Linked DNA regions of Homo sapiens: region 1 is linked to region 2. A link means that fine-mapping ties the variant in region 2 to the expression of a gene that starts in the linked region. Tissue or cell type: whole blood. Region 2 holds a variant in brackets; the other region holds the start of a gene. Each region is shown on its reference strand, or each on the opposite one. Region 1 holds the start of RALB (RAS like proto-oncogene B). Region 2 overlaps IKZF1 (IKAROS family zinc finger 1).

The links. PIP is the estimated chance that this variant, and not a neighbour inherited with it, causes the effect.
Region 1: RALB starts here. The variant in region 2 is the best candidate, but not a certain one, in a credible set for the expression of RALB in whole blood (TOPMed, PIP 0.70).

What each region holds. Positions count from the first base shown.
Region 1 is chr2:120,251,229-120,254,249 of GRCh38, reverse strand. RALB (RAS like proto-oncogene B) reads right to left here and starts at 1,398. Exons shown (of 5, transcript NM_002881.3): 1 at 1,270-1,398. RefSeq lists an enhancer at 346-615 and a silencer at 1,116-1,705.
Region 2 is chr7:50,327,233-50,329,732 of GRCh38, reverse strand. IKZF1 (IKAROS family zinc finger 1) reads right to left here. Exons shown (of 8, transcript NM_006060.6): 3 at 1,976-2,095. Among named protein-coding and RNA genes, the nearest start is that of IKZF1, 24 kb to the right of the region's middle. The variant T/G (reference allele first, on the strand shown) is at 1,021.

The DNA of each region.
Region 1 (3,021 bases), not on the chromosome of region 2:
ATAACTATCATCACCCTTCTACAGTTGCTGACTCTGGAGCTCAGAGGGGGAAAGATCGTGCTCCACATCACAACACCGGTAAACTCTCAGAACCTGCATCAAACCCAGGTCTTCAAACTCACCCCTCCTGTTTTTCCCAATATGCAGTGCTACCTTTCATGGTCGGCCCATTTCTGGGAACTTCGATACTGTGCTTCTATTGCTCCAGGTTTAAGGAGCATTCTGAGCCTTGACCGGTTCTGAGCTTTGACATCCAACAATCTTATGGCTCTGCTTGGAACATCAGTCATTGACACCTCTAAAAGATTCACTATCCCCTCTGATACTCCATGCCCACCATCCATCCCCAAAACTTCAGAAGAAATGAGGTTAGGAAACCAGGACAGAGCAGAAAGTGCACTGTTCTACAAGGGCTGAAGATGAGTCACAGGTAACCCAGATGAGCAATCAGCCAAGTCTCTTCCACGGCCAATTCATTCAGTCCGCCAGGCACAAGCACTTCTCTCCCGAAGACTCACCTGATAAGAACACCAAAGTTCCAACGTTTCTCGTTGGAAATGAGCACAGAGAGGACACTGCTCACACAAGCAGTGTGGACGCAGCAAGCTCCGCGCCCCGCAACCCTGCACCGAGCACGGTTAACCTCACACTCCCACAGGCGGCAAGAACCGGGACGGCGATGCCCAGTCCAGGCGCTTCCCCTTAGAAGCCCCTTCGCCGCTGGCCCCTATCAGAAAGGAAAGGGGAGGAGGCTGGGGGAGAAACAACTTTATGCTCATTTGCAAGACAGGACCAAAACAAAACCAGCAAACCGAAGCCCTTTAGGAACACCGCCCAGTTCACGGCGCGTGCAAGTTCCGAGGGCAGTTAAGTTTTTGCAACACTTCCCAGCCCTGACCCTGCCCAAGCCGCGGCCGGAGGACTGAGGAAGTGGACGGTCCCGAGCGGGAGGCCCGCGGCAGGAAGTGGAAGCAGAGCCATCTGCGGGATAGGGAAGGAACCGCGGCTACAAGGGAGAGGCGGAGGCCGCCCCCACTTCCTCAGCCCCAGGCAGCCCAGGAAGCCGAGACTCCCCCAGGGAGTCCTCCCGGAGCGGAGCGGGGCCGCTGCCGGGGCGTCGCCCTCCGCCGGCCTCGGGGCGCGACATGTCCTGCCGCCGCCCGGCCACAGCCCGGCACGGAGGGAGCAAGAGGCTGCGGGCGTGCGGCGTACCCCACTCCCCAGCCCGCGCCCCACCCCGCCCGGGGCCCGCGGGCGCCGCGCCCTTACCAGGGACCAGTCCCGCCGCCTCCGCCGTCCGCACCCGGCCCGCAGCTCTTAAACGCGCCCCGCCCCCTCCCGGGGCCGGACCCCAGCCGTCCTCCACCGATTTGTCATTGAGCTGCCGGGCTCGCTTTCCCACCCCCCGAGCGCGCCTCCGGCGTCGCCTAGGCAACCCCTCCTCTCGAGAGCGCGCCCTCGCTTCCGTTCTTGCCCTCTCCTCGGAAGCCACGCCCGTCGGGGGGCTGTCAGCCAATCCGAGGCTGATTTTCCAAGCAGCGGGCGGCCGGGGAGGAGGTTTCACCAATGAGAAGCTGCCCCAGGCACGGGGGGGCGGGCCCAGCGCGCCTGCCCCGTCCCCCTCTGTTTCTCTCTCTGCCCCTCGGACACGCAGCTGGTAACCCTGCGGCAGTGGAGGAGCTGCCCGCCGGTATTGAGGGCGGGTGCGGGTGCACAAGGTGGGGCGCCAGTTGTGGGATTCAGGCCAGGGCTAGGACGAAGTAATGGAAAGCAAAAGCGAAGGACAGACCTGATCATACAGAAACAGAAGAAAATTACGAGGTGGCGAAGAGTGCTGGAGCGCGGCGATGGGGATGCCGCCCGGGGGTCTTGGGGCGGGACTCCACCTGCCGCCACCACTCGCTTCGCTGATGACATCCCATTAGCAGTAATGGAGTTAGTGAGTGCATGGCGGAGACTGGACCCAGGCCGCCTACAAGGGCCAGAATCCCACCCCAGCCATAGCCTCGAGGCAGGAAGTGCAGTGGGCAAGCTCCCTGCCAAAGCCCAGGAACGTGTGATTTTGTATCCAGTACAGCTTCATCTCGGTGGATTTTCCTTCCTAACCACCTCCTCCTCCACAGGTTTTGTGACCGTGCTGACCCCTACGCAGACCTCATGAGAGTCACAAGCCATCGCAACTGACAGTTTAAACGTCTGCCTCTTATCTCTAAGGGAGGGAACTATCTCTTATGCAATGTGATATCCATGGCTGCTAGCACAGTGTAATTAATTCTTTCATTGTTGATCATTGTAAGTTAGGATGCATGTGTATACTATATTGGAGGCTTTGGGCCATGATTAGATTGCTATGTATCTACCAGATCCAGTCCCTCCATCAGCATCTATATCAAAAAGCACAGAAGCTTTACCTTAGTCTTAAGTGACCAACTTAACAAAAAAGTGCAATCAGAAGAATATCCTAGTGTTAGCCTACTAAGTATTCTGTTTTTACCATTCTCATTCACATTTAAAACTTTTATTGAGTGCTAATCGTATGACAGACACTTTGCTAGGTACAGTAAGGAGATGGGGTAGGAGGCTTCTCAAAGAGGAAGCTCCCTAGTATTTATAACCTAGAAGAGGAATCAGACCCAAACCTTTTCTTACGGAGTAACAGTTAAGTGCACAGGTTTGGAGTCTGGAAGCATAGGATTAAAGGAGGGCTCTACCTTGTGACTAGCAGTTACTTAATTAGGAAACTACTTCTGTGGGCTTTAGTTTCACCAGCTGCCCAATAGCAGCACCTCCATGCTATAGGTAAGAAGATGTACATGCAAGTCCACATAGAGCTCTCAGTACAGTGCTAGGAACTTGGTGAGTGCCTCAGGAATGTGAGCTTACATTAGTGATTGCCACCAGAGGCCACGATGTACAGTCAAGTGTGTGATCACCAATCTGGTACAGCCTTATCTCCCAAAGCCCATCTGTATCAAGTGTGACCGCGTGCAGCCTGGTGGAAAGGGCCTGCTGTGGTGGTAC
Region 2 (2,500 bases):
GTGTTCTTGGGCAGGGTGTGAGCATCTGTTTGCTCCTGTGTTAAGCAGGAAGAACAGTACCCTTGGCGCTGGGTGCTTCAGGGACTAAAAAAATCAGGGAACATCACCACCCAATGACTATTCCTGTGCCACTTTTGCAAACTTTTATCATATCTATGTACTACTATTGACTTGATGTTTTTATTTAAACTGATTTTTTAATTTATATGAATGTGTTTTGAAAGGAACCCTCGTAGTGGTACAGTGCATGGTAAAACCAGTATCACTTGCAATACATAGAAGACAATCTCAAAAATAAATACATAAATTAAAATGAAACATGATCCTTTGCATCCCAACTTTGGAAAACCCTGAAATGATATATGTATCTTTCTTTGGTAGAATAGAGTAGATAATTCACAAGTTCATTTCTCTTCCCCTCTACTTTCCACATATAGTAGCCATTTTCCAATAGGGTAAAATAATTCATAAATGTACTTGTTTTCTGGATTCATCTACACCAAATGGCTTTAGCCACCATCTTTATCTGTTTGTGCCATTAACTGTGCTGCTGAGTTAAAAAAAAAAAGAACCATTATACCTAGTCCACTTGGTTTCTAAGACACATAAAAAACATACAAAATATGTTTTCTTTACTTTTTCTTTTTTTTTTTTTTTTTTGAGATGGAGTCTGGCTCTGTCATCCAGGCTGGAGTGCAGTGGCGCAATCTCGGCTCACTGCAAGCTCCGCCTGCCGGGTTCACGCCATTCTCCTGCCTCAGCCTCCCGAGTAGCTGGGACTACAGGCGCCCACCACTACGCCCGGCTAATTTTTTGTATTTTTAGTAGAGACAGGGTTTCACCGTGTTAGCCAGGATGGTCTCGATTTCCTGACCTTGTGATCCGCCAGCCTCGGCCTCCCAAAGTGCTGGGATTACAAGCTTGAGCCACCATGCCCGGCCCAAAATATGTTTTCTATACATGTAGATAAAATTCAGTTATCACATTTTCCCATTATTGCATTAGGATGTCCTATAGACA[T/G]ACAGTTGTGATTCTCATAAGCCTGAGAATTTTACATACATGTTCCCTCCTTGGCTATGGGGGCTTATGTAGCTGACCCACATTGATCCAGTCTACCTCATTTTACCTGTATGTCCTTCATATTCTTTTATGCCAATAGGTAGCTCTCAGTATCACAGCTCTTTCTCTTTTTAAAGAAGAAAACAGGTATTCCAGGGAACTGTTGACTCATTAGCTCATTAGAACATGGTATAATGGAGCGAGAACTAGTTTTTCAGTCAGAAATTCAGTTCAATTCTGACTCTGTCATTTCACCTTGGTTAATTCACTGAACTTCTCTCCGTCTTTGGTTTCTTGAAATAAAGAGGGTGGGTGAAGTTTTCCAAACACAAACTGTCGCATGTGTAAGTTAACCAGTGGAGTTGCAGATGGTTTCACACACACTTTTTTATGGAAAAGGTATGTAAATGTGTGCTTTGATTTTTTTCTAACATTTAAAAATTACCATTTATGAAACTTTCTATTTTCAGTTAAATCTGAAATTTAAGAACTAGAGATTAGAGGGATAACATAAAATGGCCAGATGTGGCTTGTTCTAACCCCAAACACTGAAAAGCACTGTTGCCAAAACACGTAAGTGTGTAATTTTCACGATCTACAATCCATAACATTTGATATTCCTGCAAGTGCAGTGAGGACAGAGGACAGTGACAGAGACGCGTCCCTGGGCAGGATTGCTCCTCAACTTGGACATTTTGCGGGGTGTGTGGCTCTCACGGCCATGCTGGCCTGTGAGTGTCCATCCTCCCACACACCAGAGGACCCCCATCCTGCTGATCTTTGTGCCATATTTCTTTAATATGCCAGTTGAGGGAACACAATGGATAAAATGACTTGCATCCCTTCATCACTGTCTTGGAAAAATACAAAGAGATAAAGGTTTCACAGGCACAGAGGCCGCTGGTGACCCACTTACCCACGACTCTGTCACTCTTGGAGCTTTGCTGTCCTCCCGAGGTGGTGGAGAGGTCCTCGGGGATCGGCATGGGCTCATCGCCCTCATCTGGAGTATCGCTTACAGGGGGGCTTTCCTTCCCTGATGAGAAAGAAGAAGTGTGAGTCTCGGGCGGTCATGGTCAAGGTGCCTGGGCTTCCCCCGGCTTTTGGCTTGAGAGGGTGGCATGAGGAGGCAGGTACTGGGTGGAGCCAGTGCTTCTCTGCTGGGATGCATATACCTTTTTCTTTTTATAAAAAAAGTCACTTCTCCCCACACAATACAAATGAGAGAACATAGATGTGCAAAAGGGAAGAAATACAATCACCTATAATCCCAGACACTGCCACTCTTAAAATCATCTTTATATACTATAAATAATATGAGGTGACATTATTTTGTTTTTCAAAATGAACTAGCTTTTAGACATTCTCATGTACATATTTCCATGCTCAGGGTCATATTTCCATAATTTCATGTATAACGGGTACACTAGGATTTATTTAA